Homo sapiens: one gene and its partners. The protein of the gene in region 1 interacts with the protein of each later gene in a biochemical or structural test. Each region holds a gene or a part of one and is shown on either strand. Other genes may lie near its edges.

The links.
Region 2: the proteins of CLDN2 (region 1) and LIN7A interact in a test that uses a peptide from one of them, tested with the Homo sapiens proteins (one large-scale study listed by IntAct).
Region 3: the proteins of CLDN2 (region 1) and PDZD2 interact in a test that uses a peptide from one of them, tested with the Homo sapiens proteins (one large-scale study listed by IntAct).
Region 4: the proteins of CLDN2 (region 1) and ARHGAP21 interact in a test that uses a peptide from one of them, tested with the Homo sapiens proteins (one large-scale study listed by IntAct).

What each region holds. Positions count from the first base shown.
Region 1 is NC_000023.11:106,919,188-106,923,201, forward strand, and holds the start of CLDN2 (claudin-2), read left to right. Parts: upstream 1-1,214; 5' UTR 1,215-1,364; intron 1,365-4,014. UniProt on the Homo sapiens protein: Forms paracellular channels: polymerizes in tight junction strands with cation- and water-selective channels through the strands, conveying epithelial permeability in a process known as paracellular tight junction permeability.
Region 2 is NC_000012.12:80,931,435-80,934,934, reverse strand, and holds part of LIN7A (protein lin-7 homolog A), read left to right. Parts: intron 1-3,500. UniProt on the Homo sapiens protein: Plays a role in establishing and maintaining the asymmetric distribution of channels and receptors at the plasma membrane of polarized cells.
Region 3 is NC_000005.10:32,083,131-32,086,630, forward strand, and holds part of PDZD2 (PDZ domain-containing protein 2), read left to right. Parts: intron 1-3,500.
Region 4 is NC_000010.11:24,585,501-24,587,887, reverse strand, and holds part of ARHGAP21 (rho GTPase-activating protein 21), read left to right. Parts: intron 1-1,781; coding exon 1,782-2,387. UniProt on the Homo sapiens protein: Functions as a GTPase-activating protein (GAP) for RHOA and CDC42. Downstream partner of ARF1 which may control Golgi apparatus structure and function. Also required for CTNNA1 recruitment to adherens junctions.

The sequences.
Region 1 (4,014 bases):
ATAGTGTGATTCAATTTTATAAAACAAATCCCATCGATATCTTCTACAATACATCAAAATGTTAGCAATGATTATTTCTGGCTGGTGGCATTATGAGGACCTCTATTTTCTTCTTTATAATTCATTTTCTGAATTCTTTTCAATAGCATCTAGTATTTTTCTACTTAGAAAAAACTAGAAAGCTTTTTTGCGTTGGGAGAGTAAAGCCAGTCACTGCGCTCTACTACTCCACAGCATGTTTTTTTGTTTGTTTGTTTTGGTTTGGTTTTATTTCTGTTGTTGTTTGGGTTTTTGTTTGTTTGCTTTGCTTTTTTGAGATGGAGTCTCACTCTGTCACCCAGGCTGGAGTGCAGTGGTATGATCTCGGCTCATTGCAACCTCCGCCTCCTGGGTCCAAGTGATTCTCCTGCCTCAGCTTCCCGTGTAGCTGGGACTACAGGTGCGCACCACCACATCCAGCTAATTTTTGTATTTTTAGTAGAGACAAGGTTTAACCGCGTTGGCCAGGCTGTTTTCGAACTCCTGACCTCAGGTGATCCACCCGCCTCGGCCTCCCAAAGTGCTGGGATTACAGGCGTGAGCCACTGCACACGGCCTTCACAGCACTTTTGAGAGGCTTAAATGACATAGTGCATGGCACTGCCATGTGTGGTAAAAAGGAGAGCCCTGTCCTTATGCTGGCCTACTCAGTTCCACCTTGTAGGACCTGCTCTTTGAACTCAGAGTCTGAACCTACAGTACCCATGTTTGCCCTTGAGCCTTGGGACCAACCTTAGGGGTGGGGTAGGGCTGAGGGCCTGCCAGAGAATCAAGCTGAGTAGAAAAGTCTATGGAGCTGCAGGCCATGCAGGGCTGCTTGGGCACTGGCTCACCAGGGCTGTGTTTATGCAGCTTACTCCCTGCTGGGCTTCAGGGCTGCTAGCCAGGGACACCTAATTGGTGGGACAGAGCCCCCTCCTCTCACCACCCTCAAAGCTGGAATGTTCTGAATTCCTTCTTGGGCCAAATCCCCCTCCCCACAAGGCCTCTCCTGGGTTCACAGAGGTCACCACACAAAAGCCCAGCTGGAGTGGAGTTTTTGACAGAAAAAAAAAAACACACACAGAAAACCCACCAAACCTTTTTTTTTTTTTTTCTAAAGTGCCTCAATCTTTCCCAGCCTCCAGGGGTTTAATTCTGATCTGTAATAAGTCTCTGACCCACGGCTCAGATTTGCAGATGGATTTTGCAAAGCTGTGGTTAACGATTAGAAATCCTTTATCACCTCAGCCCGTGGCCCCTTGTACTTCGCTCCCCTCCCTCAGGATCCCTTTCTCCCTCTCCAGGGGCATCTCCCCCTCCAAGGCTCTGCAAAGAACTGCCCTGTAAGTATCTCCATCCTGATATAGTTGCTGCCTTTTAAATTCACCGAGGTGGGCACTCTTCCTTCCTAGTCACTATCCATTCACCCCATGGTGGAGCCAGGCTGGGCCACCTTGGGTTTCTGAGTGAAGGGTATGGGAGGGGAAACTCCGGTGGCATTTGGGTTGGTGGTATTTGTTCCCTCAAAGCTATCACAAAGGTTCAAATCTTTAAAACTTCAGGACCAGAGAAAGCACTCTCCAAATCAGATATTTTCTGGTTTGGGGGCTTAAAAGGACTGGGATAAAAATTGGAGGAAGGGAGCCACAGTTTACCCCTCTGCCTAAGTGTAGGGGACTGAGGAGTGGCAGAAGGGGCACTCCCTCACAGCCAGCTCCAGTGCCCTCCTTGGCATGAAGGCTCAGGGAGGTAGCAGAAGGTGGGTTCCTAAGTGAAGTCATAAAGTTTCCCCATGAGGTCCTTCAAGGACTCTCCCTCACTGGTCTGCAAGTCTGTCATTAGAAATTCCTTCTTTCGACTGAGGTATTACTCTCTTCAAGTGCCCTCTTTGAAAATGCAGTTGGAACCAAAACATTCACAGCACTTATGGCCGGGGAGATCGTAGGCGATTTTTGTTTTCTAAATTCTGCCTTTCTGTGTTTTCCAGTGTTCTAAAGTGAGAATGCTTTACTTTGATGATCAGGACAAAAATCAACTTCTTTTTCAAACAATAAGAAAATCTCTCAATCCAGTTGCAATTCTCTGAACTGCCATCAATCAATTGATGTAGAAGGAAAGATGAACTGCTCTAAGGACAAACTTTCAAGAAAGTAGGGCCTCAAGGGAATGGCTTTGCCACCTACTAGTGCCCTTGGCAGCTGGAAGTGAGTTTCAGAGAAGGGGGCAAGTGTCTCAGATTCTTATGAGGGGCAGTGAGATCAAGGGATATAGAAATGAGGCTGACTGACAGAAGAGGGCTGTGGTGGCCATCATCACCCCCAGAAGGCCACATCAGTTCCTTCCTTGAGCCTGGGAACCCCAAGTGCCCTGTCCCATGTAGTCTTAGGAGGGTACTGCCAAAGAAAGAGTACCATGCACAAGACTCTTGGAGCAAGAGATGGGGAGAATAGCAGGGAAAGTACCTAGGTGAGAAGGGGTTAAGTCAGGAGCTGCGGTCAATCTTGACCCTCCTAATCCTCTCCTGCAGCTCCAATCTCCCCACTAGGGAAGATTAAGTAAGGATCCTAAGTTAAACTTTCTTGCCCAGTCCTTGGGCCATGGAGTATGTTGGCCCTATGCCCAGAAGACAAATTCAGCTGACAAGGCCTAGAGTCCTCTGTACCTCCAACGCAGCCAGTACTTGACTTCTAGGAGGATCCCTCAAAGAGAGGCTTCTATTAAAACTGGCTGCTTCTAATAACAGCTCTTCAGTCTTCTATATTTGTCAAAGTGGCTTCCTGTCCCCATGCCTTTATTTGAGACTAAAAATCTTGGAGATGACAAACTAGGGCCTAGAGAAGCTATAGGACTTCCTCAGCAGGTTCTAGGCAGAACTGACACAACAAGAAGCTAGATCTTTTGATTCTAACACCAGGACCCTGTCTGCCCTCACCTCTACTGCTCATCAGACAAACAAAAACCTGGCTGAATCCAGCCTGTCTCACCACCCAACCATTCGCCATTTAGCTGGTCTTCCTAACTCTGGTGGAAAGCTGAACCCCCCCTCCATGGGGCCATTTCTATCACTTGAATAAGCTCCAATAACTTGTTCTTCCTCCTGCCTGGGCATGCTGCTATGCCAAGTCAGACTCTAGAGATTCCAAGCCTCAGTAATGGCATTTTCTTGACTCTGCCCTCTCCCTCACCCCAAAACACTTGCCTACTTACTACTACTTAGGACAGGCTCTGGGGAGAGGCTTTCCTCTTGGGGACACTGTTGATTCCCTTGGGAAACTCAAGCTTGACTCTTCAGCTGCCATCCCAGGAAGGCTGAAGCAGGAGCTGCTCCTCTGGGAAGCAGTAGGTCTTCCCCTTGAAAACCTCAAGGTATCTCACCAATTCTCACTGAAAGCTCAGATACAAATAGGAGGAAGAAAGGAAAAGTATTGAACCCAGCCTGGGTGAGGAGCAGGGAGGGCCCAAGGATGGTTTCAAGGCAAGGATGCATCCTCAAAGATGATTTGCAATTATCCAAGCAAATGGTGGATGGTAGAATAGCATGCTTACGGGCTTGGAGACAGAGAGAAAGGCAGTCAGAGAAATTCAAGTGCTTAGGTTTGGCTGGATCATATGTGTATGTATAGGAGCATAAAGCATGAGGTTGGAGGTTAATGGTGTGAGATGAGGCTGTGAAGAAAAGCCGGGGTGAAATAATGGAGGGCTTTCTTGGTTTCCTGGGCTAGCAAGTTTGAACTTCATCCTGAAATACTTAAGAGCTCTGAAGATTTTTTTTTTTTTTTTTTTTTGAGACAAAGTTTTGCTCTATCGCTCAGGCTGGAGTGCAGTGGCACAATCTCGGCTCACTGCAACCTCCACCTCCCGGTTCCAGCGATTCTCCTGCCTCAGCCTCCCTAGTAGCTGGGATTACAGGCACATGCCACCACGCCCAACTAATTTTTGTATTTTTCGTAGAGACGGGGTTTCACTATGTTGGCCAGGCTGGTCTCAAACTCC
Region 2 (3,500 bases), on another chromosome or scaffold:
GTAACAATAGCTCACTAAAACTGTGATGTTTAACCAAGAGGAATTGTGGCAGGTGGGCAAAGGAGAGGAAGGGAAGAAGGTGCTTGACAAAGCCTCCCAAGGGCATCCCAGCAAATCTGAATATATAATCCACAATTTTAGAGCTGCTAGTTCTTTTTTGGTATCTTCATTTTACAAATGAAAAAGCATGAAAATGTGATGATAAGAGATATTTTCAAGTTGCTCTACTATTTAGTGGAGATTTTTATATTACAATTGAATTATTTTTGTTTGCTACCTTTTGACATCATACATGGATATAGTCTTCAGGGCAAATGTTTTAAGCAAACAAATCAAAGCTAGGGATCGAAATTAAGATTTACTGCTTTCCAAATTTGAAAGATATATCTGAAAGTAAGAAACTCAGAAGTCTGCACCTAGCTTCCTGGGTCTGCTCTGGGAAGTAAGCTTTTTCAAGGTCTAGGCTGGGCCCCAAAAGGATGAACAAGGTGATTACAGATTTTCATGGCCCTGTGCCTATCCAAAACTCTTTTTGATCTGCCATTAAGATCTGAGATCAACCCTGTAAAGGTCTCTGGGTGGCTATGGTCATTGTAAGTTCTTATTGACTTTGGTCCCAGTCCTTGATATCCTTCACTTAATGAGTACCTATCATAAGCCAGACCCTATTGTGGGATTGGTACACACTGGTGTGATAAAGAGACATAATTCTACTTTTTGTGGTAATTAGAACCTACTAGGAGAGGGAGATTAAAATACACACAGAGGCAAATATTAATTCATTCAATATTCATTTATCACCTTCTATATGCAAGATGCTGGAGGAATACCAGAAACAAAAGTTTCTGCTTTTGTGGTCCTTACGAGTCTAATGGGAGAGATGGATGATAAGTAAGGGCTTAATTAATTAATTTAACAAATAAATATTGTGCACCAGACTTACGCCAAACATTGTTTTATACACTGTGCCAGTGCTAATGGACAAAATAAATAAAATCTAATGGCATTTGCATGCTAATGAGAGTCACACAATGAACACACACATAAACAACTACAAGTGCCAAGGAGAAGAAATAAAACTGGGTAAAGGAGAGTGCTATAAATGGGGGCTGCTGTTTTAGATGTGTTAGTAAAGGAACACCCTCCTGAGTCAGTGACATTTGAGAAGAGTCCTGTAGAAAGTGAGGAGGCAAAGTTGCAGATACCTGGGGAAATGTCCTCAGGAGGGGGAACTCCTGTGCATACTGGGAACAGCCAGGAAGGTCAGTGTGAAAAAGTGAGAGAGGGAAGAATATGAAAAATGGGATGTGTAAAGTTGGTAGCCGGGGGTCAGATGATGTAACTCATAATTAGAATTTCAGATTAGTTGAAATTTGAAGTGCTCTGAAGAAAATAAACATGTGGTTGGAATAGAGAATAACAGAGAAGGGCCTGTTTGGTTAGCATTGGTCGAGGAAGGCTCACTGAGAAAGCAAAATTTAAACTACGTTTTGGTGTATTAGATTAATAAGATCTTTAGGAAAAGCATTCTGGAGAGAGTGAAGAGTATACATAAAAGCAGGTCCACAGTCACAACTTATCTGTCTTTCAGTTTTTACATTTATAACCAAGAAAATGATCAAAAACTGAAATTACCAAGAAATAATAACGCATTAATTATGCATCCTGGGGTAGAAATTTAATTATATATTAAGAAAATCTATAGATCAGCTTTTTGCTTCTTTGTATTACAAGGCTAAAACATCATATATTATAATTCGATTTTTAGAAATATACTGAGCACTGTAATTTACATGTCACTATGCATAAATCTACATGTTGAATCCAAGTGGTCATAAGAGGAGATATATTCAATTTTAGTCCAATATTTTATGTTAGACAGTGGTATAGAAAGTAGTACATGTCATTTACCCTTGTAACAAAGAGAAGATACTGATAAGGAGATTAGTGTGGAATTCTTCTCTTCCAGACCTTAAAATGTTCATAGCAACTCTTCTCTACATCAGAGGTTAGTTTGCTCAGATTTTAATCTTTAAAACCAGGAATGACCTTCAGCTAAACTCAAGGGAACAAAGAAGAATGCAATCCTTAATACTTAACACGTGGATATTAAAGAACATAGAAATGCTTCAGGAATTAAAGACCGCATGGATTTAGGGACTTTCTAAAGTATGGTAGCTCCAATTCTCCTTCACTTTTCATCTCAAGGTCAGAGAAGATAATACAAAATAACTCTTCAAATTTTACTTTTGCTTACTCTGTTCCCTTAATTTTTAAGCCAAATGGCTCTTGAATACTCATGGCTTATGAAGGAATAATACAAAACCAACTCTTGGAGAAAAATGAATAATTAAAACATTTCTAATACTTTCCTTATGACATGATTAGTAGCTTCCAATCTGCATTTAAATGCTTACATAAGATACAAGGTTGGTATTACTATCATCTAACTTTTCCGTGAGTTAAATTCATTTTGGACAAGTTGCAAAAATGAAAATGGAAATCTTTATTTCTTGGCTTCTAAAATAAGTCGTAATTTAAAATATTGATTAAACAAATCCTAGTGTGCTTTTCATTTAAGACAAATCAAACTTTTGTCCTTTAAAAAATCTGCTATAAAACCAAGAACTTTTATTTTGTGGATTTCAACCTTATGGAAAACAAGTATAAGAACAAAAATTGAATGCAAATAACTATCCCATGGGTGCCACACTTGTCATAGAATTTGTGATACATTACAATTTTTCTCTTTTCCCTTTTCACTTTTCAAGGCAGGCAGAGCTTATTACTTCATGCGTCTTCCGATTCAAGCCCTGGGAAGCCTATAGGTTTTCTAATCAGCTTTATTCACTGGTTTTTATAAAATCTGTATTTGCCAGAAAATTGCTTTTGCTTACACTCCAGAGGGGTTTGCCCCTTCTCTTGCTCCTAGTTTGTTTGTTTGTTTTAATTTGACACGGAGAAAGATTAAGGAAGAAGGAAAATAAAAATTAGGTTAGTCTTTATGTCGTTTTCAAGATGTATGCCCTGGTGTTTTGATCAGGGGTAGAAAAGAGGAGGGCTGACTATATTTTATGTCTCTTGTCCTAAATCCTTCCCATAGCAGCAGCCGCATGTGTTTTAGTGTACAAACAAGTAAGCGCTTGCTTGCTCTCTCATATTTTCTCTGGGCTCCAGCAAATATTAAAAAATTGAACTGAACTTTTTTATTTCTTTGTAAATCAATGAGTGTTTCCTTTCACACTATATAGTTACAAAACACTCCAGGAGTTTTCCATTTTTTTTTTTTTTTTCTTTTTGACAGAGTCTTGCCCTGTTGCCCAGGCAGGAGTGTGGTGGTGTGATCTCGGCTCACTGCAACCTCAGCCTTTTGGGTTTAAGCGATTCTCTGGCCTCAGCCTCCCGAGGAGGCAACAGGCAACACCACCAGGCCCAGCTGATGTTTTTGTATTTTTTAATAGAGACGGGTTTTTGCCATGTTGGCCAGGCTGGTCTGGAAC
Region 3 (3,500 bases), on another chromosome or scaffold:
TTTGAGTCTTGTGCGTATATGGGTGTGAATAAATATATAGTCCTGTGCTTTTTTTGTCTTTTTGCCAAAAAAAAAAAAAAAATCCACTGTGGTAGTCACCAGTACCTAACAACCTTTTTAAACCTCATACATCCACACGAAATAATATTTGAGCAGCCTGCTGGCATCAGTAAGACTGCTCCTCAGCCCATGGGCCTGACCTAGCAGGCTGTCCCTCGCACTGACCACTCTGCTGTCAGCACACCCATAGCCTACTCTAGGAAACCGCACTGCTATCCTGCAGGCTCTTCTACACCCGACATCACCTGGAGAGGCTGCTGGGCCTTCCACCCCACGGATGTGCTGTAACGAGTCAACCTTCCTCCCATGATTGGGCATTTCGAACGTTTCCAGAGAAAAGGTTGTCTTGAAAGGTGACAACCAAAGGCTGCCTCAGTGTAACCTCGTCTCCCTCAGATGAAGACCTTTTAAGTTACAGACTTTGCAATAAAGTCAAATTGCTAACATGAATTGCCTGTTTAGGTTTATTCAGTGAGCGAATATGAAATTTGTTTATTTTTGAGACGGATTCTTGCTCTGTCGCTCAGGCTGGATGGAGTACAGTGGCTCGATCTCGGCTCACTGCAACCTCCGCCTCCCAGGTTCAGGCAGTTCTCCTGCCTCAGCCTCCCAAGCAGCTGGGATTACAGACGTGCACCACCACACCTGGCTAATTTTTGTATTTTTAGTAGAGATGGGATTTCCCCATGTTGGCCAGGCTGGTTTCGAACTCCTGACCTCAAGTGATCTGCCTGGCCTCAGCATCCCAAAGTGCTGGGATTACAGGCATGAGCCACCGCCCACGGCCTGAATATGAAATTTAAAAACAGAGTTTAAATCCCCTCCTTTTGTGTCATTGCTACTCCCCACCACCACCCGCACTACCGCCCATATTTGCTGTCACCAGAAGCAGGAACATTATGCTTAAGGGGAAGTTCAAAAAAGGTTGAGCAGAGAAGGAGAAGAGCACGTGGCTTTGAGTCTTGGCAGGCCCCTGGCCTTCCACAGTGGGCCTGGAAAGCTAGTAGCTAGTACGGTCTCCATGGGGATCTCGACGATCCAACCTTTTGATTGCCAAGGGCTCTCCACACAGAGGCCACATAGTCAGGGTTTAGGCAGTAGCATGGGCTGTGGAGCCAGCTTCCTGGGGCGACCGCTGGCTCTGCCACCTGTGAACTCTGACCTCAGACACATTGCTTAACCACGCTGTTTCTCCGTCCTCATCCTTCCAATGCAGATGGTCACAGGACATACCTCAGTGTTAGGAGGAAAATTAAATGTGTACAAAACTCTTAGCACAGTGTTAACTCCTTAATTATTGGAAAACCTCTTAGCACAGGGCTGAGTCCTAATAATTAGTTCTTAATTATTCACATAGCAAGGTCAGCAGGTTAAAAAAATGCAATTAAGATGATTTTATGTGAGAGCTGTGGAACGAACATAATATTTGGGGAAGAGTTGGTTTGACTTAATTCTCAAACCAAGAGCTTTCATGGAACTTCATTTTTCACTCCAACCTCAGACCCATAGTTCCTAAGAAAATAGCTTTGTTCTTTCTGATGCCAGATTTTTTTTCCCTGTTGCAAGATGCTGTGTGTCTGAGGTGGAAGATTAGCCCAAGACTATGCAGGGCCTTATGAACAGGCACTTTCAGGAGTGAGTGGCTGTTGGAACCCACCTCCTAGATGACTTCCCACTGTCCACTGGCACACATCCCCTTGCCCTGCCACCTCCAAGATTTCAGGCTCTTTCTTGCTTCTCTGCTTTCATTCTGTTGCCTTTTTTTTTTTTTTTTTTTTTTTTTTGAGACAGAGTCTTGCTCTGTTGCCCAGGCTTGAAGGCAGTGGTGCAATCTCAGCTCACTGACCTCTACCTCCTGGGTTCAAGCGAATCTCGTGCCTCAGCCTCCCAAGTAGCTGGGATTACAGGTGCATGCCACCATGCCTGGTTAATTTTTGTATTTTTCGTAGAGATAGGGTTTCACCATGTTGGCCAAGCTGGTCTCAAACTCCTGACAAGTGATCCACCTGCCTTGGCCTCCCAAAGTGCTGGGATTACAGGCGTGATCCACCGTGCCCAGCTGCCTTTTTTTTTTTTTAATTGACACATAATTGTACATACTTATGGAGCACAAAGTGGTACTTCAGTACATATATACATTGTGCAATGATTAAATCAGGGTAATTAGCATATCCATCACATCAAATGTATCATGTCTTTGTGGTAGGAACATCCCAAATTCTCTCTTCTAGCTATTTCAATAAATGCAATACCTTATTATTATTTTTTTTTTTTGAGACGGAGTCTTGCTCTGTTACTCAGGCTGGAATACAATGGCATGATCTTGGCTCACTGCAACTCCACCTCCCAGGTTCAAGCGATTCTCCTGCCTCAGCCTCACAAGTAGCTGGGATTACAGGCGTGTGCCACCACACTCAGCTAATTTTTGTATTTTTAGTAGAGACGGGAATTTCACCATGTTGGCCAGGCTGGTCTCGAACTCTTGACCTCAGGTGATCCACCCGCCTTGGCCTCCCAAAGTGCTGGGATTACAGGCGTGAGCCACCATGCCCAGCCCTGTTTTTGTTGTGTTGTTGTTGTTTTGTTTTGTCTTTTGTTTTTTTTACACTCAAACTGCCTTGGCTATTCAGAGTCCTTTGTGGTTCCATGCACATTTTACAACTGTTTTTTTTTTTTCTATTTCTGTAAAAAATGTCATTGGAATTTTGGTAGGAATTGTACCGAATCTATAGATGACTTTGGGTAGTATGGACATTTTAACGGTACTCTTCCATTGTCTTCCTTACCTTCCTCCTCCTCACTCTCTGGCCAAACTCCCCTTGTCAGCCCCATTCATGTCCCCACCTCCTCTGTCAAGTCTTCCTGGGATAATCTGGCTTCTCACTCTCCCACTCCTCTGAATTCGTCAAGACAGCCAGAGCTCGGTGTAGACCTGTATCCCAGCTTTCGTATTCTGTATGTTTTCCCTAGTTAGCCTCAGCCCCTGCACTAAAAAGGAAGCCTCTTGAGCTCGGCACTTGGACTGTTTTACACTGAAGTACATCATTCACATCCCCCAGTGTGAGCCAAACCCACACACCACTGGCCAGATACTGGGACTGAGAGGTCCATGAGGGCCCTGCTGCATCCACGCAGGAGTAGGGAACCAAATAGAACAAGAGCCTGACGCTTGCGGCTTTGCCATCAGAGGGTGAATGGCATAAAGAGACCCAAGTGTGCAATGATTAAATCAGGGTAATCAGCATATCCATCACATCAAATGTATCATTTCTTTGTGGTAGGAACATCTGCCATCATAGAAATACCAAAAGAGAGAAAAATGGGCAGATGTAAATGTTTCTTCTGCCGGCTAATCTGAGTTCTCTTAGAGCGTCTAAAGCAGGGTGGTATTTGTTAGATGTGGGTACTCTATAATTTTAGAGAGAAAACCAGGAAGACAA
Region 4 (2,387 bases), on another chromosome or scaffold:
GATATCCCAATGACATGATTAACTACTTCTAACAAACAGTCTCTGTAGAAAAGTAGAGTAATTTGCCTCAACACATATATGATCATAGAATTGTAAAGAGAACCTTAAGGAAATCTGAAAGACAGTATAATCTAATTGCTTCTCGCCACGGAACTGAGATGTTTAAAAGTGAATCCCTTGCTCGTACCCAGCAAGCTAGAGAGGATGGACATCAAGGTCTCCCAATTGAGAGCCCAGTCACAACCATTATCCCCTACAGTCTTCAGCACAATGTGGGGAAATGTAAATAACCATTAGAAATGTGCTGGATAATTATGAAAGTCTTTATAACTTGTAAAAACAAAGTTCTGTTCATCTGTGATTTCATCTTAGCGAATTTTTGATAGAACAGCCTAAATTCTTTGATAGAACAGCCTAAATTTTTACTTTAAGACTTTAAATAGAGCAGTTTTAACTTGTCTAAGATTTGCAGGCAATAGAGAAATATACTGTCTGTTTCTATTACTCAGCATACCTCCTGCCTACCTGCTTGTCTTAAAAAGTGTGTGGTAAACCAGCAGATATTTAGGAAGAAACTAATAGTTGCAATCAAGAACCTATTATATCTAGATGCAGTGGCTCATGCCTGTAAATCCTGGCACTTTGGGAGGCTGAGGTGGGAGGATAGCTTGAGACTAAGGCTTCTAGACCAGCCTGGGCAACATGGTGAAACTCCATCTTAAAAAATTTTTTTTAAAAGAACCTATTATACATAGCAAATAACTTTCCCAATAACACTGCACTACAGTGTTTCTGTGGTAAGGATTTAATTGTACTTATGTTAATTGATCTTTCCTTTCTACCTTCCTGGGGTGGGTTCTCACTCTGTCACCCAGGCTGGAGTGCAATGGTACCCTCATGCTCACTGCAGCCTTGACTTCCCCAGGCTCAGGTGATCCTCTGACCTCGGCCTCCCAAGTAGCCAGGACCACAGGTGCGTGCCACCATGCCCACTTAATTTTTTGTAGAGACAGGCCTTCACCATGTTCCCTAGGCTGATCTCGAACTTCTGGGCTCGAGCAATCTGCCCGCCTCAGCCTCCCAAAGTGCTGGGATTACAGGCATGAGCCACCACACCTGGCCTGTTTTTTGAATATTCTAATTCCATTGTTACCTTGAGATAAATGAAGACATTACCAACCTGATTTACTTAAGGCAGATCCTTGAAGATCCTGCCTGAATGAACTAATGGAAGACCAGAGTTCCCTTATCTCAATGAGCTTATCTGATACAGTATCTATATCATGTGGTACCTGTAATTAGAAAAATCAAAGTCAGTCATAAACATTTAATAACCTATATCAGAATGTGATGTTTAATAACCTATATCAGAATATGATGTTTGACCGTGTCACAATATTGTTTTACCTATCCCATGCCTCTATTCCAAATGAAGGAAGTGAAGAATGCCTGGGCACTGTGGAAGGAGGGAAGGTCAGGTGTTTGGGGGATTTTGATAGGAATCAGCACTAAGCACAGACTATTTTCCTGAAAGGCAGATGTGTATGAGCTGTGGCTTGGCAGTTAAATACCACGAGGCAAGAAATTGGACTCATTAAATAAAAATTTGACTTTGGTTCAAGGTAAAAAGAGGTATTAAAAAAAAAGCTAATTGCACTGTTAATGCTTCCAGAGCTTTAGTAGATATAATTTGATAAGAAATATTTGGGAGACAAGCTTGTCAGAAAATGAACTCAGCTGCATTCTTATGCTCAGAGTCTTTCTTCTCTCTTGCTTCCCAGGGTTCTTGGGGATCTGGAAAGGATCAGTATAGCAGGGAACTGCTTGTGTCCTCCATCTTTGCAGCTGCTAGTCGCAAGAGGAAGAAGCCGAAAGAAAAAGCACAGCCTAGCAGCTCAGAAGATGAACTGGACAATGTATTTTTTAAGAAAGAAAATGTGGAACAGTGTCACAATGATACTAAAGAGGAGTCCAAAAAAGAAAGTGAGACACTGGGCAGAAAACAGAAGATCATCATTGCCAAAGAAAACAGCACTAGGAAAGACCCCAGCACGACAAAAGATGAAAAGATATCACTAGGAAAAGAGAGCACGCCTTCTGAAGAACCCTCACCACCACACAACTCAAAACACAACAAGTCACCAACTCTCAGCTGTCGCTTTGCCATCCTGAAAGAGAGCCCCAGGTCACTTCTGGCACAGAAGTCCTCCCACCTTGAAGAGACAGGCTCTGACTCTGGCACTTTGCTCAGCACGTCTTCCCAGGCCTCCCTGGCAAGGTTTTCCATGAAGAAATCAACCAGTCCAGAAACGAAACATAGCGAGTTTTTGGCCAACGTCAGCACCATCACCTCAGATTATTCCACCACATCGTCTGCTACATACTTG